Homo sapiens: one gene and its partners. The protein of the gene in region 4 interacts with the protein of the main gene of each other region in a pairwise test. Each region holds a gene or a part of one and is shown on either strand. Other genes may lie near its edges.

The links.
Region 1: the proteins of LAT (region 4) and JSRP1 interact in binary tests that used the Homo sapiens proteins (3 or more experiments, as listed by UniProt).
Region 2: the proteins of LAT (region 4) and TNFRSF10D interact in binary tests that used the Homo sapiens proteins (3 or more experiments, as listed by UniProt).
Region 3: the proteins of LAT (region 4) and SLC71A2 interact in binary tests that used the Homo sapiens proteins (3 or more experiments, as listed by UniProt).

The regions. Positions count from the first base shown.
Region 1 is NC_000019.10:2,253,388-2,261,044, reverse strand, and holds the start of JSRP1 (junctional sarcoplasmic reticulum protein 1), read left to right. Parts: upstream 1-4,627; 5' UTR 4,628-4,662; intron 4,663-5,700; 5' UTR 5,701-5,730; coding exon 5,731-5,839; intron 5,840-6,562; coding exon 6,563-6,600; intron 6,601-6,743; coding exon 6,744-6,858; intron 6,859-7,251; coding exon 7,252-7,425; intron 7,426-7,657. UniProt on the Homo sapiens protein: Involved in skeletal muscle excitation/contraction coupling (EC), probably acting as a regulator of the voltage-sensitive calcium channel CACNA1S.
Region 2 is NC_000008.11:23,135,056-23,140,034, forward strand, and holds the end of TNFRSF10D (tumor necrosis factor receptor superfamily member 10D precursor), read right to left. Parts: intron 3,206-4,979; coding exon 3,133-3,205; intron 2,949-3,132; coding exon 2,815-2,948; 3' UTR 533-2,814; downstream 1-532. UniProt on the Homo sapiens protein: Receptor for the cytotoxic ligand TRAIL. Contains a truncated death domain and hence is not capable of inducing apoptosis but protects against TRAIL-mediated apoptosis. Reports are contradictory with regards to its ability to induce the NF-kappa-B pathway.
Region 3 is NC_000009.12:94,370,257-94,377,571, reverse strand, and holds the start of SLC71A2 (hippocampus abundant transcript-like protein 1), read right to left. Parts: upstream 3,004-7,315; 5' UTR 2,753-3,003; coding exon 2,645-2,752; intron 1-2,644.
Region 4 is NC_000016.10:28,988,052-28,991,323, reverse strand, and holds the end of LAT (linker for activation of T-cells family member 1), read right to left. Parts: intron 1,798-3,272; coding exon 1,735-1,797; intron 1,551-1,734; coding exon 1,485-1,550; intron 1,392-1,484; coding exon 1,312-1,391; 3' UTR 1,305-1,311; intron 1,136-1,304; 3' UTR 540-1,135; downstream 1-539. UniProt on the Homo sapiens protein: Required for TCR (T-cell antigen receptor)- and pre-TCR-mediated signaling, both in mature T-cells and during their development.

The DNA of each region.
Region 1 (7,657 bases), on a different chromosome or scaffold from region 4:
TTTGGGAGGCCGGGGCAGGTGGATCACTAGGTCAGGAGTTCAAGATCACCCTGGCCAACATGGTGAAACCCCATCTCTACTAAAGATACAAAAAATTAGCTGGGCATGGTGGTGCGCACCTGTAATCCCAGCTACTTGGGAGGCTGAGGCAGGAGAATTGCTTGTACCCAGGAGGCAGAGGTTGTAGTGAGCCGAGATTGCGCCATTGCACTCCAGCCTGGGCAACAGGGCTGGACTCCGTCTCAAAAAAAAAAAAGATAAAAAAAGAAAGTCCCACAGAGGCCCCGTGTCCAGGCTTTGCTTCTGGGAAAGCTGAGCCTTCCAGGAAAGGAATGCAAAGGGAGACACTATGAGAATAAGAAGGTGAAAATGCTGTTGAGGCTGGGCGCGGTGGCTCACGCCTGTGATCCCAGCACTTTGGGAGGCCAAGGCAGGAGGATTGCTTGAGGCCAAGGGTTTCAGACTACCCTCGCTAACATAGGGAGACCTGGTCTCTTAAAAAAAAAAAAAGCTATTTATTTTGACCAGAGAAATGCAAATCGAAACCACAATGAGATCATGCCGTTCACACCCACTAGGCTGGCAATAAAAACACAAACAAAGAAACTGGAAAATGACGAGTTGGACGTGGAGAAGTTGGAACGCTCCTGTATGGCTGCTGGGCAGGTAAAACAGTTCAGTCGCTTTGGAAGAGAGACTGGTGGCTCTTCAAAAAGTTAAGCATAGAGACAGGGCGTGGTGGCTCACACCTGTAATCCCAGCATTTCAGGAGGCCAGGGCCGGTGGATCACTTGAGCCCAGGAGTTCGAGACCAGCCTGGGCAACATGGTGAAACACCATCTCTACTAAAAATGCAAAAATTAGCAGCTGGGCGCAGTGGCTCACGCCTGTAATCTCAGCACTTTGGGAGGCCGAGGCAGGTGGATCACCTGAGGTCAGGAGTTTGAGACCAGCCTGGTCGACATGGCAAAACGCTGTCACTACTAAAAATACAAAAATTAGCTGGATGTGGTGGCAGGCACCTGTAATCGCAGCTACTTGGGAGGCTGGGGCAGGAGAATCACTTGAACCCGGGAGGCAGAGGTTGCAGAGAGCCGAGATTGTGCCACTGCACTCCAGTCTGGGTGACAAGAGCGAAACTCCATCTCAAAAAAAAAAAAAAATTAGCTGGGCATGGTGGCATATGCCTGTAATCCCAGCTCCTCAGGAGACTGAGGCAGGAGAATCGCTTGAGCCTGGGAGGCAGAGGTTGCAATGAGCAGAGATGGCCCCACTGCACTGGAGCCTGGGCCACAGAGTGAGACTCTGTCTCATAAATAGAAAATAAAAAATTAGCTGCGTGTGGTGTCAGGCACCTGTGGTCCCAGCTACTCAGGAGGCTGAGGTGGGATGACCACCTGAGCTGAAGAGGCTGAGGCTGTAGTGAGCCCTGATTGCGCCAACGCATGCCAGCCTGGGTGACGGAGATGAGAGCCTGTCTCAAAAAACAAACAAATGAAATCATATTTTGCAGCAACATGGATGGAGCTGGAGATCATCATCCTAAGTGAAATGACTCAGCAACCACCACCCCTGTCTTATTCCAGAACATTCTTGTCACCCTAAATGAAGCTCCATCCCCATCAGCCATCACTCCCCATCCCCTTCCCAGCCCCGGCACCCACAAATCCCCTTCCTGTCTCTGTGAATTGGCCTGTCCTGGACATTTCTTTTTTTTTTTTTTTTTTTTTTTGAGACGGAGTCTCGCTCTGTCGCCCGGGCTGGAGTGCAGTGGCGTGATCTCAGCTCACTGCAAGCTCCGCCTCCCGGGTTCACGCCATTCTCCTGCCTCAGCCTCCCAAGTAGCTGGGACTACAGGCGCCCGCCACCACGCCCGGCTGATTTTTTGTATTTTTAGTAGAGACGGGGTTTCACCGTGTTAGCCAGGATGGTCTCGATCTCCTGACCTCGTGATCCACCCACCTTGGCCTCCCAAAGTGCTGGGATTACAGGCATGAGCCACTGTACCCGGCCCTGTCCTGGACATTTCATAGAAATGGGATCACATACAGCATGGCCTTCTGTGTCTGGCACCTCTCACCGAGCGTGACATCCTTAAAGTGCATTCACGCCATGGCCGCAGTCAGAGCCTCGTTCCTGTTCACGGCTGTGTCGTACTTCACCGTGTGGAAGGGCCACGCTGTGTTGATCCGTGTATCTGAGGATGGAACGCTAGAGCTGCCTACACCATGTGGCTGCGGAGAATCGTGCTGCCCTGAACTTGGGTGTGCAAATATCTGAGTCCAAGCTTCGGATTCCTTTTCGTAGATACCTAGGAGTAGAGTTTCTGCATCTTATGGTCATTCTATTTTAGCTTTTTGAGGAACTGCCAAGCTGTAATATACTTTTAGGAGGGGCCAAGCACTGTGGCTCACGCCTGTAATCCCAACACTTCAGGAGGCCAGAGTGGGCAGATCGCCTGAGGTCAGGAGTTTGAGACCAGCCTGATTAACATGGTGAAACCCCATCTCTGCTAAAAATATGAAAATTAGCCAGGCGCAGTGGTGCATGCCTGTAATCCTAGGTCCTCGGGAGGCTGAGGCAGGAGAATCGCTTGAACCCAGGAGGCAGAGGTTGCAGTGAGCCGAGATCGCGCCATTGCACTCCAGCCTGGGTGACAGAGAGAGACTCCATCTCAACAACAACAAAAAAACTTTTAGGAAGAAAAAATAAATCTAGGTTACAAACAAGATGTTCAGCCCTTCGCTAATTATGCCAGCTTTATAAAAATAAATATGGAACTAATAATAAAATCACAAGTTACAAACAGCGGAAAGAACATGTCAAACTATTAAACAGTGTCTGTTTGGGGGCGGGAAGATGACAGGTGCTTTACAGTTTTTGCTTTCAGCTTCTCTTTGTTTCCTGTTTGTCTCTGCCTTGTGTCATACAGAAAAAAATGAGAGCCATTTCTTTTTTTTTTTCTTTTTGAGACAGAGTCTCGCTCTGTCGCCCAGGCTGGAGTGCAGTGGTGCCATCTCGGCTCACTGCAAACTCTGCCTCCCGGGTTCACGCCATTCTCCTGCCTCAGCCTCCCGAGTAGCTGGGACTACAGGCGCCCGCCACGACACTCAGCTAATTTTTTGTATTTTTAGTAGAGACGGGGTTTCACCGTGTTAGCCAGGAGGGTCTCAATCTCCTGACCTTGTGATCCACCTGCCTTGGCCTCCCAAAGTGCTGGGATTACAGGCGTGAGCCACCGCGCCCGGCCGAGAGCCGTTTCTAAAGCGGAGGGAGTGGGGACCAGGGAACCCCAGCCCTTGCTTTGCTGAAGGCGGGCTGGCCTTCTGGGTCTCTTGGTAGTTCCTGGGGAGGCCCTATTCACTCAGAATTATTATTATTATTTGAGACAGAGTCTCACTCTGTCGCCCAGGCTGGAGTGCAATGATGTGATCTCGGCTCACTGCAACCTCCACCTCCCGGGTTCAAGCAATTCTCCTGCCTCAGCCTCCCCAGTAGCTGGGATTACAGGCATCCACTATCACGCCTCACTAATTTTTGTATTTTTAATAGAGACAAGATTTCACCATGTTGGCCAGGCTGGTGTCAAACTCCCGACCTCAGGCGATCCGCCCGCCTCAGCCTCCCACAGTGCTGGGATTACAGGCGTGAGCCACCGCGCCCGGCCATTCACTCAGGATTTTTAACACACAGGCCTCACCACCAAAATCCACTTCCCCTCTTCCCTCAGGACTCCCAGAGTCACCATGCTTTGCAGGTAGGGCTCAAACATCTGCCTGCAGGCCTTAGAATGTGCCTTTGGGGGCTGAGAGACCCCGGGTCCTCTCCAGAGCAGAGGCGTCAGGTTTCTCTGCATGACGGTGTGGGAGCAGGCAGTTCCGAGTGTATGAGCCTGCCAGAGCCACAGAAACAAATGACCCCAAATACAGTGGCTTTAAACAGCAGGAATGAATGCATTGCAGGGGCTCCCGCCTGGGATCCCAGCACTTTGGGTGGCCAAGGCGAGCGGATCACATGGATTACTTGCGGTCAGGAGTTCGAGAGCAGCCTGGCCAACATAGGGAAACCCTGTCTCTACTGAAAAAAAAATACAAAAATTAGTCCGGGTGCAGTGGCTCACGCCTGTAATTCCAGCAATTTGGGAGGCCAAGGTGGGCGGATTCCGAGGTCAGGAGACCGAGACCATCCTGGCTAACACGGTGAAACCCCATCTCTACTAAAAATACAAAAAAAATTAGCCGGGCGCGGTGGCGGGCGCCTGTAGTCCCAGCTACTCGGGAGGCTGAGGCACGGGAATGGCGTGAACCCGGGAGGCGGAGCTTGCAGTGAGTGGAGATCGCGCCACCGCACTCCAGCCTGGGAGACAGAGCGAGACTCCGTCTCAAAAAAAATTGAAAACTTACCGGGTGTGATGGTGCGCGCCTGTAGTCCCAGCTGCAGGCGCTACGTCTCCCTGGGTGGCAGTGGCGAGTGCTGAGTAGGAGCAATGCCCTGCCCTGCTGCAATGGCAGGGAAGGGTGGGGGACTCCCCGGCTGTGACCTCACTCCAGCGGGCATGCTGATTGGCCCACCCGCGGTCTCTGGCCACCTGTTGCCGTCCATCACGGGGCCACCCTCCCCATCCTCCGTCCTGTCCACAAGGCTCAGCAAAGCGGCTGGCGGGTAAGCGAGGCTCGGGGGTAAGGAAGTGAGGCTGGGGGAATCCCGGGCAGAGGTGTGGGCTCCCGGGGTGTGAAGGGGTGTTGCAGAGGACTGTAAGGGTCCCCAATTCCTGGAGCTGCCCCCATGCACACCCAGGGGCCACACACCAGCCTCCCATGCTTCTTGGGCCCCTCCCCCACTGCCACGCAATAGGCCCCTTCCAGGTCTTGGAGCCCCAGGGCTGGGTGGTTTTTCAGCCTAGATACAGGGACACCCTAATCCCAGCAGCCAGAGGCCATGGGGACCCTGAAGAGTACAGCTTTGGGTCTGACTTGAAGCTCCTTGCGACCTCCAGCCAATGGCACTGTCTCTAGCCTCGGTTTCCTCATCTGTCCTATGGGAACAGAGTTAGTGGGACAAGGCAGGGTACTCTGTGTCAGGATCAGAAGACCCCCAACCACAACCGGGACCCTCCTCCCCTGCCCCGGCCTGTCACGACCAGAGCCAGGATGGTTCTGCTGCTGGGGCCTGAGCCTGTAGACTCACAGGGTCACGCAGCAGGATGTGGGTGCCCAGAATGGCAAGTCAGGGTGGCCCAGAGGGAGACCCCATGAGAGCAGAGGCCTGGGAGGGGCTGGGGCACCTGTTAGCCTGTCCCGCTGGCCTCAGGCACCAGATAAAAATAGTCCCTGGTCTCAGAGAACATGAGCTGACTCTGGGGCCAAGAGTTTCGGTTTGGGGTGCGTCTGGGACTCATTGCTGTGTTGTCCTGCAGGGGCTCCCGCCCTCTCTGGGCCAGAGCAGCCTGGGCTACTGTACTGATGGATACTGGACCCCAGTGAGGCTGGGCGGTAGGGAGGGGTCCCAGGGCAGGCATGCGGGGTCAGAGAGATGCCTGGAGTGGGCGCCGGGCCATGCCTGGCATGAGTATGAATTTGCCGAGTGAGGAGGGGTGGGAGGACGGGGCCTGTTAGTTGGTGTCCGCAGAACCTCCAGGTCAGGCCCAGGCCTGTGGCAGAGACTCAGTAAATGCAAGACCTTGTTCCCCACCCCTCCCAGCCTGGCCTGGGACCTGCTGCTGCTCCAGCCATGTCCATGACAACCAGAGCCTGGGAGGAGCTGGATGGCGGCCTGGGCAGCTGCCAGGCCCTGGAGGACCACTCTGCGCTGGCCGAGACCCAGGAGGACAGGGCTTCAGGTACCCTTGTGGCGCTGGCGGGAGGAAGCCCTTCCCTGATGGTCCCCTTGAGCCAGGAGGCCCATCTTCAGAGACTAGAGCTTCTTAGCCTCCCACACTGGACTGGCTTATAGTGTGCTCCCCATGTTCAACCCCTGGCCCTCATTTCTGCCTCAGGGGTCTGTAAGGAGCCCCCAAGGAAGACAGGTGCTGGGCCACACAGATCTAGGTTCGAATCCCACGTTGCCACTGAAATGCTGGGTGTCTTTGGGCAAAGCTGTCTCCAAGCCTGTCTGCTTTCTTTATATTTTTATATATTTTTATTATTATTTTTTGAGACAGAGCCTCATTCTGTCTTCCATGCTGGAGTACAGTGACATGATCATAAGTCACTGCAGCCTTGACCTCCCAGGCTCAAGTGATCCTCCTGCCTCAGCCTCCCAAGTAGCTGGGGCCACAGGTGCAGGCCACCATGCCTCGCTAATTTTTTTTTTTTTTTTTTTTTAGAGATGGGGTCTCACTATGTTGCCCAGGCTGGTCTCAAACTCCTGGGCTCAGGTGATCCTCCCACCTCAGTCTCCCCAAAATGCTGGATTCCAGGTGTGAACCACTGTGCTGGCCTCCACCTACTTTCTTATCTATAAGATGGGGTTAGTCACCCGCACGTCACCCAGCAGGGCCAGGGGAGAGGGTGGGATTGGCCTGGGGGTCCCCACAACCTTGACTCTGCCTGTGTTCCCACAGCGACACCCAGGCTGGCCGACTCCGGCAGCGTGCCCCACGTGAGTAGCTGGGACCCTCAGCCTTTAACCCAGGACGCCTGGGGAGTTGGGGACAAGCCGACCAAGGGAGGCAGGTGTCTAAAGCCCACGGGAAGGGTTTGGCACTGGAAGGAAACATGTGGAATGTCTCGTGATAACCACAGGACTCTCAGGTGGCTGAAGGCCCCAGTGTGGACACCAGGCCCAAGAAGATGGAAAAAGAGCCTGCCGCCAGGGGGACCCCAGGAACGGGGAAGGAGAGGCTGAAAGCCGGAGCGAGTGGGTTTGCAGGAGGCATGGGTGAGGTGTGGGGTGGGAACGGACTGGTGTGAGGCTCAGGTGCCGGAGCTGGGTCCTTGGATCTTGGAGGGTGGTGTCCTGGTTGAGTGGCGTCGAAGTGTGGCAGGCAGCGAGTCAACGGGCAGGGAGCCTCTACTAATGCGTAATAATACCAGCTATGCCACTCAGCTCCGGGAAGTTACCTTCCAGAAACTCTAGGCATCCCCGTGCAGCTGCGGGGCACCCGGGGCTGGGTTCACCTGCGCCCGGGGCCGCACAGGCAGGCAGAGAGAGCCGGGTTCAGGGCACAGGCCTGTCTCTTGTCCCCTGCGCCCGGGGAAGGGGGCGGCACAGAGCCAGTGACCACAGCGCAGCGCGCACTTGCCCCCGCAGGCCCTCGGAGCGTCCCCGCGCGCAAGAAGGCGCAGACCGCGCCGCCCCTGCAGCCGCCGCCGCCGCCCCCGGCCCTGAGCGAGGAGCTGCCCTGGGGAGACCTGTCGCTCAACAAGTGCCTGGTGCTCGCCTCGCTGGTGGCGCTGCTGGGCTCGGCTTTCCAGCTGTGCCGCGGTGAGCGCAGGCTCCCCAGAGGTGGGGCGAGGCTGGGGTCCACCTGTGCGCCTATTCCTCCAAGGAAAGGCGCTGTGCCGCCAGGGTGGGGTCTGGGAGCCTCCTCTCCAGGGCTGGGTCTTGCACGCCCCCAAAGTTGGTTTGTGCATCTCCCCTTAAGTGACGGGCCTTGCGCGCCCCTCTCACCCGGTGTGGACCTTTTGCGGGGCCCATTCCCCTCGCCGCGAGTAGG
Region 2 (4,979 bases), on a different chromosome or scaffold from region 4:
TGCTCAGCCTCCATGCAGCTCACCCAGCCCAGGGTTCCAAGTGAGGCCATGGGCAGTGCAGGCGGGAAGCAGGAGGTAGCATGGAGCAGCCGCAGCCCCACCTCCCCTCTAGGGAAGGCAGACAGCATGGGAGCACGCCTGGGCCTCCTGGGAGCTGTGGGCCAGAGGGAGAGCAGGTCCTCCAGCGCAAGGGGAGTGGGAAATGGCTCTCACAGGTGCCTGCAGGGCTGAGCAACCTGGGTCCACTGATGGGGATACAGGGAAGGGCTGCTGTCCCTCTCCCCAGAGGGAGGAGCAGACAGGAGAGAAACAGGGAGGAGGCGCGAATTCCAGTAGCCAAGAACCTGGTCCTTTAAAATCCAGGGAGTCATAGGCAGGAAACTCCCCCCACACCCCCACCGCCAGGCGGGCCAAGCCTGAAGGCAGAGAAGGGACAAGTAAGGAGGCCCAGCAGGAACGAAGCCCTGGCCTCCTGTCACTCAGAGCTGTGTCACAGCAGGAGAGGAGGATGGAAATAAACGAACACCACACCTTTTTAATATGAGGTTTCATATTTATTTTGGTCATAAACATATGAGTATTTCATATATAACCAGGTGTTATGTGCTATTTGGCCCGGGTATAAAGCAAAACCTAAACAAATCAACCAACGCCAAAAAACCCCAACAATTTCATGTTGTCAGGAAGCTTATGTTAAAGGAATAAGCTTAAACACTGATAAGGCTGGTAGTCTAGATGCATCTTCAAGGAAGGCCTCTGAGGAAGGGACAAAGGAGCTGGGACCGGACTGGCTCTCTCTGAGCTTTGAGACCAAGTCTCCTGCACAGAAGGCCCAGCAAAGGCAAAGACTAGGAGGCAGCAGCACCCTGTGTCATCCAGAAGTGCAGGGGACAAGGTGTGGGACGCCAGATGGAAGTGGGAGAGGATGGAAGTGCGAAGACCGGAAAGGCCATCCCCTCCTAAAACTCCATGGACACAACAATCTGAATGTGCGAACTTCAGGCAGTTCTAACTTTGTCCCAGCCAAACCAGTCCCGGAACAAAACACACAATGCCTTGAGATGGAAAAGACTGAAACCCCTAGAATGACTATATCCGTAATTTATCCTACCACGACTGGGCTACTGTGGAGAAGAGTTTGCTGGAAAGAAGCTAAAACGATTACTGAGGTTTTTAAATAAAATAATGGAACGTGACACAAGGACAAATGTGTCAGCCATTTTAGATCCTGTTGTCACAGTGTTTAAGAATTGATATCTCTGAGATGAGTCAGATGCTTACAGAGGGGCCAAGCTCCTCAAACAGGGAATCTGTACCCTAAAACGCAGCTCAGGAATCTCTGCCCTAAAAGGCATCCCAGGGACTCAGTTCACAGACCACCAGAAGCGAGAGGGGCCCATCCATGCCTGAGTCGGCAACCATTTCACACCATTCCCAAGCACCGTCCACTCTTCCCTCTTGATGCCATGGCAGATGCCGGGGCAGATAAACACCTGCTCTGCCCTGAGCCCAAATGAGGCTCAAGATTCACTAACGTTCAACTGTAATGGCGCTTGAAAGAGAAGCTCTTCGCAGTCTCGGATCTAACTTAATTCTCACTGTCCTCATCTGCTGTGGACAAGTCGGAAGATGCAGTCCCATGACTGTCCCAGCACGACAAACCAGACACATGGCTTCCCAAAGATACCAGGCTCTTCAAAATCCTGGGCATATGTAAACATCTACTTATAAATAAATAAATAAATATTTATTTATAAATAAATATGGCTATATACCTCTAAAATTAACAAGTAAGACAAGCTGCCCCTTGAGAAGCTGCCAGCCATCAAACCCTGGTCCAGTCTCAGGGCGCAGGAGGGAGAACTGGAATGCAGTAAGTGCCTCCCACAGAGGGAGGATTTCTCCCTCCGTCACTAGTTATATTTTTAGTCATTTTTGACTGCTGATTTGTATCCAGGCAACCCATGTAAACAGCCTAATAAGTGCATTTCCTAAAGTTTTTCCATGTTTACATCATTATACAAAAATCGGAAAAGAGATGTACAGCCTACAGTAGTAAGCAATATAAATGTTTCTCTAATTAAGGTGGGGGTAAGCCCCAATAATCCTATCTTAAAGCTCAAAACTCTAAGTCGAACCCTCGTAAGTCCATATGCTCATGACTTAGCATAGGGCTACGTCTTGATAATCTCATCATTAAGTCAAAAATATCCGAAACTGAAAATACAGGTAATAACAAGATAATCCCGTTCTAAAGTTAAAAAACTATAAGGCAAAGCATTGTGGCTGTGCGGCATCTGTAGTTAGATGTCATTAAATGCACACACCAGTAGAGATGGAGCTTGCAATATAAGAAGCAGAAAAAAAGACTTGTCTCATGATGAAGAACTGCAAAGAATGACATCCTAAAACCACTTTTTTTCTTTTTAAATTGAGATGGAGTTTCACTGTGTTGATGAGGCTGGTCTCAAACTCCCGAGCTCAAGCAATCCACCTGCCTCAGCCTATCAAAGTGCTGGGATTACAGGCATGAGCCACCGCATGTGGCCTAAAACGACCCTTAATACACAATCGTATAACTATGCAGCCAAGAATCTGATATAAATTTCTCCCGTTTGCTTATCACACGCAGTATTTCATAAAAATTACTCCAAGTGCGTTAACAAAGTTCTAGGACCATTGGTAAGCTGCCCCATATTGGATAGTAGAGTTTGTTGGGGCATGGGTCAAGTACTGGACTGTTTCTTCCAGGCTGCTTCCCTTTGTAGGAGAAAAGGTAAATGAGGGAAGCTCTGGTTTCCTGAAGAGATTCTTTCACAGGCAGGACGTAGCAGAGCCTGCCTCATCTTCTTCATAAAAGAGCTTTTCGGAGCCCACCAGTTGGTCCTGAATTGTTTCCTTTGCATGTCCTTCTTCCAGTGTTGCCGAGGCATCCAGCAAGGTGCTGACTGAGAAGAGAGAAGAGATTTAGGGTCTCAATGCTCCAAGGACGATCAGCACAGGATCGACATGGGGCCCCCTGCTTCCAGCAGTGAAACCTCCAGAAGAGCCCTCTCAGCTATAGGGACAGCAGTTAGGACACCGTCCCTATTCCCTGTCCTCCTGCTGCGTCTCAAGGCACAAAACACTTACTGTCAGCGGAGTCAGCGTCATTCACTGGAACCAGCAGCCTCCTCCTCTGACACCCTTCAGCTTCTGCCTGTTCCTGTAACACACAGTGGGGAATGCTCTGGTCAGAGTCAGGAGTCCTGCAGTCTAGTACTGACCCTGACCACTAGCCAGCAAGAGACCTGCAGCGCTTTCCCTCTTGGGTCTCCATGGAGATGGAGACAAACCTCTGGTCCTCCATAGCTCTTGGGCTCTGTGTGCTGGTGGCTCATTGAGACATAAGTGACATGCAGTAAATGCTCACTTTGTAAGTGTTCTGACCAACTTTGACTATAGGCCTGTGTAATTATCCCCTGATCAAGACATAGAAACTGCCACACCCCAGAAAGTCCCCTTCTGCCCCATCTAATCAACTCCCACCCACCCTCACAAGAAATGATCACTTCCTTCCAGAATTCTTACCAGCAGAGTCTCGGCAGACTATATATGAGAGCACCCAGGAAAACCTAACAAAATGATTTATCCCAAGACTGTAAATGATCTTTGATCATCAGTACTCTACCATATCAATAGCGTAATTAAATAAAATGGCAGTCTCTATGGAGGCTGGAAAGACATTTGGTAAAATTAAACAGCAATTCTGATTTTTTTCAAACCCTTTTAGAATAGTAAGCTGTGTTCTTGATGATGAGAATTTCTATATGAAACCAAAAGTGAATGCCATTGCTAAGAGTGACACTTTGGAGGCCTTCCCCAGAAATCAAATCAGGACCCAAACACCTGCCTTCCCTAAGCACAGCTGAATATTGTTCTGAAAGGTCTGGCCTAGGCAACAAGATGGAAAATTAAAATGAGGCAAGACTTTTGGAAGAGGGCAGACACAATAATCATTATTTTCAACGTCATTTAAAACCCCTAAGATGAAACTACAATATTGAAATAGAAATGTATGTCTGGAGGAATGTTAAAAACATAGCAAATGCAATAAATTAGCAAACAGAATTACAAGGTTATCCAACTCATAATGGATACAAAATACTAAACAGCCATAAGAAACAGGAATAATTTATTTGAAGAGGAACACAAATCACAACTCAGTTACAATAAAATACTTGACACCAAATGTTATCTCCTTTGATAAGGAAATACTGAATATTAATAAAATATTCAGTGTTTCTAGATTAATTTTTAATTTTAAAGCGAATTGATAAAACGGCAACTGAGGTTTTTCGGGAGGGAAGGATGGAGGAAATCTTTTAATTCTAAATTTTATCTGGGTAAAATAATACATTTTGAAAAAGTATGGAAGAGGTGTTTGCTCTTTTGGATGTTAAAAAACATTAGAAAGTTCCCATTGGAACATGCCTCAAAATGGTAAGAGCCATCTATGACAAACCCACAGCCAACATCATACTGAATGGGCCAAAGCTGGAAGCATTCCCCTTGAGAACTGGAACAAGGCAAGGATGCTCACGCTCACCACTCCCATTCAACATAGTACTGGAAGTCCTAGTCAGAGCACTCAGGCAAGAGAAAGAAAGAAAAGGCATCCAGATATGAAATGAAGAAGTGAAAACTCTTCATGGACGATATGATTCTATACCTTGGAAACCCTAAATACTCCACCAAAAGGCCCCTGGAACTAATAAACGACTTCAGCAAAATTTCAGGATACAAAATCAATGTATAAAAATCAGTAGCACCGGGCACCGTGGCTCACACCTGTAATCCCAGCACTTTGGGAGGCCGAGGCAGGCGGATCACGATGTCAAGAGTTCAAGACCAGCACGACCAACATGGTGAAACCCCGTCTCTACTAAAGAATACAAAAATTAACGGGGCGTAGCTGGGTACGGTGGCTCACGCCTGTA
Region 3 (7,315 bases), on a different chromosome or scaffold from region 4:
CTCTACAAAAAATAAATTAAAAAAAAAAAAAAAAAAAAGCCAGGCATGGTGGCACATATCTGTTGTCCCAGCTACTCAGGAGGCTGAGGTGAGAGGACTGCTTGAGCCCAAGAATTTAAGGCTGCAGTGAGCCATGACTGGCCATTGCAGCCTGGATGACAGCAAGACCCTATCTCAAAAAAAAAAACACAGAAAACAAAAAAGAAAAAAGTTATCAGCTGGACAATCTTCCCTGTGATTACTAGTAGCATCTAAGAACCTGAAATCATGAGTGTCACTGAAACCAAGCTGTAAGGAAATTCCAACACATTAAAATGAAATCAATTCATATAGGGGCTATAGGACACAGCACCCGGAGGTGACATTAGAAACTGCAAACAGGAAAAACACATAATTCAGGGGTACTAGCATATGACACAAACATATATGATTAAAAGCATTCACTGTTCTCCCAACGTCCACACACTCAGAAAAACACTGCTACCTGCTCATGCTAGCCTTCTCACTATCTACAGCAAACACCAAGAAAACTCAGTATTCATCACAATTAACATCAACTCCATGCGTTCTCAGAGAGGAGGAAAGACCAGGCAGGAATCTACCTGTGCCCAAAATTAGGTTACCATCAGGATCCAACGGAGAAAGAACTGGGGAATAAACTGAGTCTAGGTTTCTTTGAGTAAACATCCCTCGCAAGTTTCTGCTCTTAAGCACACAAATTTAGCAACTTTAATTTCTAGGTTGGGGTCTAGTTCCTGTCAACACTAGGAAATGGGAGACAACTACTTTTATCACGGTCAGATCACCTATAGATTGTGATCATTCAATCATACATGCAAAGAATATTACAAAATACTAACAACATTAGTATGTATTAAGGGGCTTACTAGATGCCAAGTTGCAGCAACCCTCACAACCCTCTGAGGTAAATGCCATTATTAATCAGGAGTTACGTTAACTTATCGAACTGTGGAAACTGGGATTTCAAGCATGCTCGTCTAATCACTATACTAATAATGCTTCAACCTGCCAATTTATTTTTTTATTCTGTAAGCCATAAGGAGCCAATGAAAAAAATTAAGGACAGCAGTAATGATCATCTTTACATGCTAGAACACACTACTCAGCCACGTGCAAGGTGGACTGACGCTGGGGTGAGCAAGGGTCTTGAAAGAGATAGTCAAAGTCTGGGTCAAAAATGCTGAGGAAATTCTGAGCATAAGAATGCATAGGAGAGGATAAAAACCTAAAATCTGTATCTAATAAACTTAGCTAGACTTTCTGATTGTTTTAAGTATGGGAAGGGATGAAGGAAGCTACCTCGCAGGTTACTAGCTGGGCCACTGGTTAGTAATTACTGTCCATCAATTCATGAGACAGGAGGAGGAACTGGTGCTTTAGTTTTGTGTAGCAAGCAGGAAGAGGACAAGTCTACTTAACGCGAATCAAAATGAGAGCAAGCAATTATACAGAATTTCTCTCCCTCGACAAAATAAGCTTCTCATATTACAGAGATCTTAACTTTGAAATGCTTTTCAAAATAGGGAGTCACTTGGGCTGGGAGGGGACTTCAACTAAGTCCTCATTTTACAGAGGAGGCACTGAGGGGCAAGGCTGTTTCAATACCCTGTCCAGAGTGCGCACTGTTCAGGCAAAACCAGGACTAAAAACCAGCTCTGCCGGATCCGTTCTACCTACTGCTCCTTCTGCTTCAGCTGCCCTCCCAACCTACTAATAGGGATTTACATCCCCAAATACGTTCATGTAAACACTTAGCATTCTTCAACTAAACACAAAATCAGATATGTAAGCTAAAAATCTAAAGCCAAAAACATGTATTTAATTTCCATAAAATTTCTACTTTTCTTTGGAAAAACTTTCCCATTGTGTCAGTTTCTATTCACTGTAACATTCTCTATATTTCAGGTCCTAAGACCAAAAAAAAAAAATCCTTTTTAAACTTAGGCCTTGAAGAAACGACAAACCCTCTAGGCTTAATATTGCACCATATGAAACCACTGACACAGACAAGGCCTGTTCTGCCGAAACCAGGCCAGTTAAGTCAGGGCTCAATTGCTTCTGTATCATTGTCAGAAGCCATCTCGACCTCAAGCAAAAGTAAAACTGGAGAAAGAGGCCAGCCTAACTTGCTCCTCGGCTGGTCCCCAGCAACGCCCCTGGAAACTCTGCTCCCCATCGCTAGGACCGCCCCTCCGACGCCGGGAGAACACGGAAGGAGCAGCAAGGCGCTGCCCGGCATCTGCCGCCAACTTCCCCGTCGACGGTCTGATTCAAATGCTCCCTACCTGTTTTCCATGTAGACTTGGAGAGAAACTGCGCCAGGAAAACTGTTATCAACTGTTACAGGGACGGAGAACTCCGAAATAACCAAATTACTACTTATATTCACTGTCCCATGTCTAGCGCCTTTTGAAACAATAACCAAATCCTGTAAAGTTTTGTCTGCGATGAGCAGTCACTAGGAAAAACCTGTATTCGTGATGAATTCGCCTCCCCCCCCAGAAAAGGACCGACTTTCCAAGAGCCGAAGCCCCTGCCCGGAGCGGCGGGCTCGCGGGCCCTGGGTGCGACCCCACCCAGCCTCCCCGGGATTCAGGCAGCCGGGCCCCGCGCCCGCGCTCACCCAGGTGCTCCCCGCGGCCTGCGCGCCCGCGCGCTTCTCCGGCATGGCTCCCGCCTCGGGCTCCGACGCCGCCTTCTCCTCCAGCTCCGGCGGCGGCTCCACGCTCATGCCGCGGCCATGCCCGCGCCAGCCCGGGGCGCTCCGGGACGACGGCGACGCCGCGGAGGCGGCGGCGGTGCCCGCGCCCTCATGGGCTCTGCGGCCCGCGGCGGCCTGCGGGTCAGGCGGCGGCGCCAGCGGCGGCGCCGAGGGCTGAGGAGGCGGCGGAGGCTGAAGCTGCGGATCAGGCTAGCAGAAGACCGCAGCTCCAGGAACCGACCACTTATCAAACCGCACCGACCCCGACTCTCGCAGTTACCGGCGGCGTCAGGGGCGGGCTGCACGGTTAAGAGACTGTGCCCCGCCCCGCCTCCCCACAGGCCGGCGCCGGGCAGGAGGCCCCGCCCCGCACCTCAGCTCCCGCCTCGAGAACGAGTCCCGCGCCTGAGTAGCCTCCAGCGACGCCACGCCCACTTCAGAGACCCCTCCTTTACCTCGCGACTGGCCCCTTGGCATCAGGACTTCGCGGCGCGCGGGAAGTACGTCATTTCGAGAGCCCGTACGACTGATTTCTTTTTCCGGAGAATCTGGACTGAGGCTAGCAAGCGGGGAGGGGCAAACTCGTGGGGGTTTGGTAGTGATTGCAGTTCAGTTTTGGTCTTGGTTTGCGCCAACCCGCCAACCTCTCAAGTTTTTCTATGGTTCTCTAAGAAGAAAATAATATACTAGCAATGTTTCCCAAACGTACTTGAACACAACACTTTTTATTCTTGACACATGATTAATATCTTGTAGAATGTGTAGGACGCAGTTGGAAAAGCCTGGCTTATGTTTATTTATTTTGAAAGATATGCACCTAATACTGAAATATAAAAAAGCCTACAGGCCTGGAGCGGTGGCCCACACCTATAATCCCAGCACTTTGGGAGGCCGAGGCGGCTGGTTCACCTGAGGTCAGGAGTTAGAGACCAGCCTGGCCAACGCGGTGAAACCCTGTCTCTACTAAAAAACAAAAACAAAAACAAAAAACACCAAAAAAATTAGCCGGGCTTGGTGGCGCACGCCTGTAATCCAAGCTACTCGGGAGGCTGAGGCAGGAGAATAGCTTGAACCTGGGAGCCGGAGGTTGCAGTGAGCCGAGATAGCGTCACTGCACTCCATCCTGGGCGACAGAGTGAGGCTCTGTCTCACAAAAAAAAAAAAAAAATCTTTTTACAAACATCAATAGAAAAAAGAATAAAATTATTTCTATTAACAGGATTAGTAATTTTAATTGAATTAAAGTCATTTCATTTAAGAATTTTTTCAGGTTGGGCGTGGTGGCTCACGCCTGTAATCCCAGGACTTTGGCAGGCAGAGGTGGGCGGATCGCCTGAGGTCAAGAGTTCCAGACCAGCCTGGCCAACATGGTGAAACCCCGTCTCTACTAAAAATACAGAAGTTAGCCGGGCATGGTGGCGGATGCCTGTAATCCCAGCTACTTGGGAGGCTGAGGGAAGAGAATCGCTTGAACCCAGGAGGCGGAGGTTGCAGTGAGCCGAGATGGTGCACTGCACTCCACCCTGGGTGACAAGAGTGAGACTTCGTCTCCAAAAAAAAAAAAAAAAAAAGCCTCTTTTTCGCTTCCCACCCACTACCCCCAAACACACACACACACACTTTGCAGAAGTCTTTACTTTTATTTATTTATTTATTTATTTGAGACAGAGTCTTGCTCTGTCACCCAGGCTACAGTCACCCAGCCTAGATCAGTGGCGTGATCTAGGTTCACTGCAACCTCTACCTCCCGCATTCAAGCGACTCTCCTGCCTGAGCCTGCCGAGTAGCTGGGATTACAGGTGCGCGTCACCATGCCCGGCTAATTTTTGTATTTTTAGTAGAGACGGGGTTTCACCATGTTGGCTGGGCTGGTCTTGAACTACTGACTTCAAGTGATCCGCCCCCCTCGGCTCACCGAGCCGGCCTGGTCTTTTTTCTTTTTTTTTTTTTTTTTTTGAGACGAAATTTCGCTTTTGTCGCCCAGCCTAGATCAGTGGCTCGATCTCGGCTCACTGCAACCTGTGCCTCCTGGGTTCAAGCAATTCTCCTGCCTCAGACTCTCGAGTAGCTGGGATTACAGGTGCATGCCACGACCTGGCTATCTTCTGTATGTTTAGTAGAGACAAGTTCACCATGTTGGCCAGGCTGTTCTCGAATTCCTGATCTCAGGTGATCCACCCGCCTCGACCTCCCATAGTGCTGGGATTACAGGCGTGAGCGACTACACCCAGCCTGATTTGTCTACTTTTCTGAATGATTGTTTTAACAAATAGTTTTCAAAACACAGAGGGAATATATGTATTATGTTATGCTGTTTGAGTATTATGTTTATGCCACTTATGAGCTTGGGTATCAGTTTCTGATTCCTGTATCCATGAAACAGAAAAGTTTGTAAACTGTTTTTTTGTTTTCTTTTGAGACAGTCTTGCTCTGTTGCCCAGTCTGGAGTACAGTGGCGCGATCTCAGCTCACTGCAACCTCTGCCTCTCCGGTTCAAACGATTGTGGTGCCTCAGCCTCCCGAGTAGCTGGGACTACAGGCACCTGCCACCACACCCAGCCAATTTTTGTATTTTTAGTAGAGACAGGGTTTCACCATGTTGGCTGGGCTGGTCTCCAACTCCTGACCTCAAGTGATCCGCCTGCCTCAACATCCCAAAGTGCTGGGATTACAGGCATGAGCCACCATGCCCAGCCTGGACTGTTTTCTTAAATAGACTTACAATAAAGTTATCCTAGAGGGAATAATGGAGTTTTTTGAAGTTTATTTTCTTTATCACAAAAGCCACTAAAGTTTGCTATAATACTAGCAGTGTATATTTTTAACTACAGAATAGGCTGTGATTCTACTGAGGCAAACTTATAAATTATACCAGATAAGTATACCATTATATCTTTGATGGTTGATATTGCCATATCAGCTATATCAGAGTAACATATGCTAATACAGTTCTTTTTCCTAAGAGGAGAAATTCAAACAATTTGCTGATCTTTTTTTTTTTTTTTTTTTTGATACAGAGTCTTGCTCTGTCGCCTAGGCTGGAGTTCAGTGACGCGATCACAGCTCACTGCAGCCTTGACCTCCTGGGCTCAAGTGATCCTCCCACCTCAGCCTCCTGGGTAGCTGGGACCACAGGTGCATAAAACCATGCCTGGCTACCTTTTTAATTTTTGGTAGAGACAGTGTCTCACTGTGTTGCCCAGCCTGTTCTCCAACTCCTGGGCTCAAGCAATCTTCCTACCTCAGCCTCCCAAAGTACTGGAATTATAGGCGTGAGCCACCGTGCCTAGCCTTGCTGATTTCTATTTAATATTTTTGTTGAGATTTTTCGCTTTAAATAAATTAATCATCTGGTCTTAAAGCTGGATTTTAAGATTGGGTTAAACTTAATGCTAAAATAGGGTATCTAATAACTGAGAGTCTTTAATCCCCAAGACTATCCTCTGGTTTAATGATTCACTAGAAGAACCCCAAAAAGCTATTTTACTCATAGTTACAGTTTATTATAGTGAAAGGATACAGATGAAAATAGCAAAGGTAAGAGGCAGCAGAGTCCACGAGAGACCACGCACAAGCTTCCAGTTGTCCTTTCTGAGTAGAGTCTATGGGCAGCACCACTAATTCTCCCAGCAATGATATGGATCTGGGTGCTGTGCTCTCTCTCTCTCTACTTGTGTGTGTGTGTGTGTGTGTGTGTGTGTGTGTGTGTGTGTGTGTTAACAATACATGTAGTTTCAGAATTTCTAACTCTGTGGAAGCAAGTTTTCCAACTACAGTGTTTATGTACGGTTCTTTTTGTTTTTATCCTGAAAGTAGCCAGTCAAAACAGTTTTCCAAATCAATTCAATTTCTTTCTTATTTACTCAAATCAATTCTTTTTTGATTGAGTAATCAATCAAACTTTTATTTATTTACTCAATTTATTTTTTCCCCACTCACTTTGGTGAGGTTATGCCATACCTTTGTAATATAATTAAGTTCATTTGTCGTGCTGGCCATTCTATCCTAAGATCCCACATTAATTTGCATAAAGTTAACTCTCTGCAGTGTATTGTTCTGTGGATTTTGACAAATGGATGGGCCAGGTGCAGTGGCTCAGGCCTGTAATCCCAGCACTTTGGGAGGTCGAGGTGGGAGGATCACTTGAGACCAGGACTTCAAGAGAAATAGGTAGTTATGCATCTACTGCCACAAGACCCTAAATATTCCCTTGTGTGGTCAATTTGTAATCAACAGAAAGGGGGAAGTGGTATTGAATTCATCACTTTTTATATATAATTTGAATCTTTTTTAAAGTATGATGCAATTGGGTTGTTCAATAATGTCTGTGAGTCTCCTTGTACTGGCAGTTGTCTGCTGGGAAGGAAATCCAGAGCTGGCACCTGCATGGCCCAGATCCAAGCCAAGGTGTATAAAGCAATACCTTCACATGGTATCTTTGTTGCTGTTTCTCCACCCGTCTACTGTTCCCTGTGTGAAAGGATAACAAACTGTCTTACGATAATTGTCTAAATGTTTAAAACACACTTCACTTAATTTTGTTTGTTCCGAGCACTACTTTGTAATTGCAATTATAACAATGTGTTAAGATAA
Region 4 (3,272 bases):
CCATCTCTACTAAAAATACAAAAATTAGCCAGGTGTGGTAGTGGGGGCCTGTAATCCCAGCTACTCAGGAGGCTGAGGCAGGAGAATTGTTTGAACCCAGGAGGCGGAGGTTGCAGTGAGCCAAGATCACGCCACTGCACTCCAGCCTGGCGACAGAGGGAGACCCCATCTCAAAAAAAGAAAAAAAAAAAAAAGGAAAAAGAAAAAACAAACACACAATCTCTAAAACTACATGGAATGAGATTGGGAAAGGAGTGAATTGCAGAGGAAAGCCAAGGTGAAATTCCCAAAATAAGGGGAAATGGATCCCGGACAAGTAAAGGCAATAGATGCTCACCACGCCCTTGCTCCTCAGGATGAGGTTCACAGAACAGCAGCATCAGAATCACACAGGAGAGGCTCAGAAATGCAAAGTCTCAGGCCACGTCCTAGGCGAACTGAGTCAGAACCCACCCCACAGCAAAGTCTGCCGGTGAGTCACCTACCCATCAAAGTCTCAAAAGTGCTGTGCTGCATATTAACTTTTTCAGTTACTTAGACAATTTTTTAAGTTCTGTTTTATTGAGAACCACAAAAGGTAAGAACTAAGAGAGTCCTCCCAGGTCATCAGGTCCCATCCCTTGGTCTAAGGATGGTGAAACCATTGTCACAGCCAGCAGCTGCCGTGTTCTGGGACTGTCTCATGGGGCAATGTGTCCTCACCCCCAGCAGTGCCAGCCCAGGTCAGAAGGCTTCATTCAGAAGGGGGGTGTCACAGCACCTGGCTGAGCCCCCATGGAGGATGGAGACCCACAGATACACACAAACACACAGAGACATCTCCAAATCTCTGACTCAGACTCGCACACAGGCACACACAGACGCACGCTCAACACAGACACACGCAGGCCTTTATTCTATTACACAGAGTAGGGCTGGGGCCAGGGCAGGTCATTCTCAGGCTGCGTCAGAAGGTGCAGAGCGTTCGGGGGACACAGGCCGAACCCCAAAGTGATAATAAGTTACGGGGGGATTTCTCAGGCTGTTGTCAGGCTGGAGCAAGGGCAGGACGCCATGTGAGGACCCCAGAGCCACTTCCAGCTGCCCAGCTCAGCCGTCCCAGGCAAGCCTGGTTCCAGGACAGACTCGGCCTCCACTGAAACACACCAGGGCAGGGAGGGATACGGATCAGGAGGCTGACGGGGTTCAGCAGGTACCCAGAGACAGAGGGACAAGCCAGAGGTAGGGTTGGGCAAGGGGGTCCTGGAGGGAAGGAGTAGAGCCTGTGGGCCCAGGGCAGGGTGGGGACAGGGCAGGCCTCTCACCAGGCCCTCAGTTCAGCTCCTGCAGATTCTCGTAATCTGGAGCCCCCTCTTCCTCCACTTCCTCTGCCTCCTGGGAACTCAGGGCGGCTGTAAGGGAGGGGAGGTTGGTCTCCAGCTTGCAAGCTATCCCCCCAAGCCCAAAGCAGCTACCCCAGCTCCTGCCCCTCCCGCAGAACACACCAGGCTCAGTCTTAGCCGCTCCAGGATGCAGTTCCTGGGACACATTCACATACTCCCGGCTGCCATCTGTGGGGACAGATCAGAAGGAGGGGCAGCCACGCAAAGGGGTCAGGAGGGCGAGAGAGCAAGGGGACGCCCAGACAGAGGGGGCAGAGGGTGTGGGTAGCCCCAGGGTGGGATCTGGTCACACTGAGAGCATGGTGGGGCAGCGGGGTGCAGGGGCAGGCACCGACAAGCACCGGTCACTCACCCAGAGACGCTTCTGCGCTCTCCCCGCTCTCCGGAACGTTCACGTAATCATCAATGGACTCCACTGTGGAAAAGCCAGGCCCACCTCGGCACTGTGACCAGAGACCCTTGGCCACAGGTTCCCAGAGAACCCCCAACCTCAGCCATGCAGAGCTCCCCAACGGTAGACCCCAGAGGCTTCCCACACAGCCACCCCCATTAGCCCCACAGAATGAAGAGAGGGGACTCCAGGCTGGCAAGGATGGTGTTGGTGATGGTGATGGTGGCCTGGACAAGGGCAAGGGCTGTGGAGAGGGAGGGAGGAGGTCCACTTGACTGGGACTGAGGAGAGCTCACAAAGGGTCAGGCCCCAGCACAGCCCCTAGGCTGGGGAGCAGGGATGTAGTGCGGCTCGGAGCAGTGGGAGTTTGGTGGCGTGTGTGGAGGGGACATGACACACTAGGCCCAGCAGGCACCTCCTCCCCCCGACCCCCATCCCCACCTGCCCCCTGCCAGCCACTGCCTATGTCTCACTCCCATGTCAGCCCTTCATGGCGCCTGTCACCATCCATGTTATTTGGGAGCTTTTTGTTTGTTTTTGTTTTTCTTGAGACAGGGTCTCGCTCTGTTACCCAGGCTGGAGTGCAGTGGTGCAATCTCGGCTCACCGCAACCTTGACCTCCTGGGCTCAGATGATCTTCCCACCTCAGCTCCTACCAGGCCAGGCTAAATTTTGGAATTTTTGTAGAGATAGGGTCTCCCTATGCTGCCCAGGCTGGTCTTGAACTCCTGGGTTCAAGTGACCCACCTGCCTCAGCCTCCCAAAGTGCTGGGATCACAGGCATCAGCTACCACGCCTGGTTATTTGGTTCTTTTATTTTGTTTATTTATTTATTTTTGAGATGGAGTCTCCCTCTGTCACCTAGAGGGCTGGAGGGCAGTGGGGTGATCTTGGCCCACTGCAACCTCTGCCTCCCGGTTCTAGCAATTCTCCTGCCTCAGCCTCCTGAGTAGCTGGGATTACAGGTGCCCGCCACCACGCCCTGCTAATTTTGGTATTTTTAGTAGAGACTGGGTTTCGCCATGTTGGCCAGGTCAGTCTCGAACTCCTGACCTCAGGTGATCCCCCCACCTTGGCCTCCCAAAGTGCTGGGATTACAGGTGTGAGCCACCGTGCCCGGCCTATTTGGTTCTTTTATGTGTTTCTTGTTTGTTTTTGAAGACCGCCCCGGTTCAATCCCAGCTCCAGCACTAACCAACCACATAACCTCAGCCAAGGGACCTTACCTCTCTGTGCCTCAGTTTTCTCCTCTGTAAAATAGGGCCTGTCACACAGCAGTGCTGTTAAACAGATAAACCCTGTATCCCACAAAAGGGACAACTGGAGCACAGGAGGGCGCGGGCAGGCCCGGGAGCCCCAGGGCAGTCAGATTAGTGAGTGAACACATGTCAGACTCTTAGCAAGGCATGCAGGAGGCCCTCGGTGAATCTTAGCTATTTTATCTTTTTTTTTTTTTTTTAACACAAGGTCTCACTCTGTCACCCAGGCTGGAGTGCAGT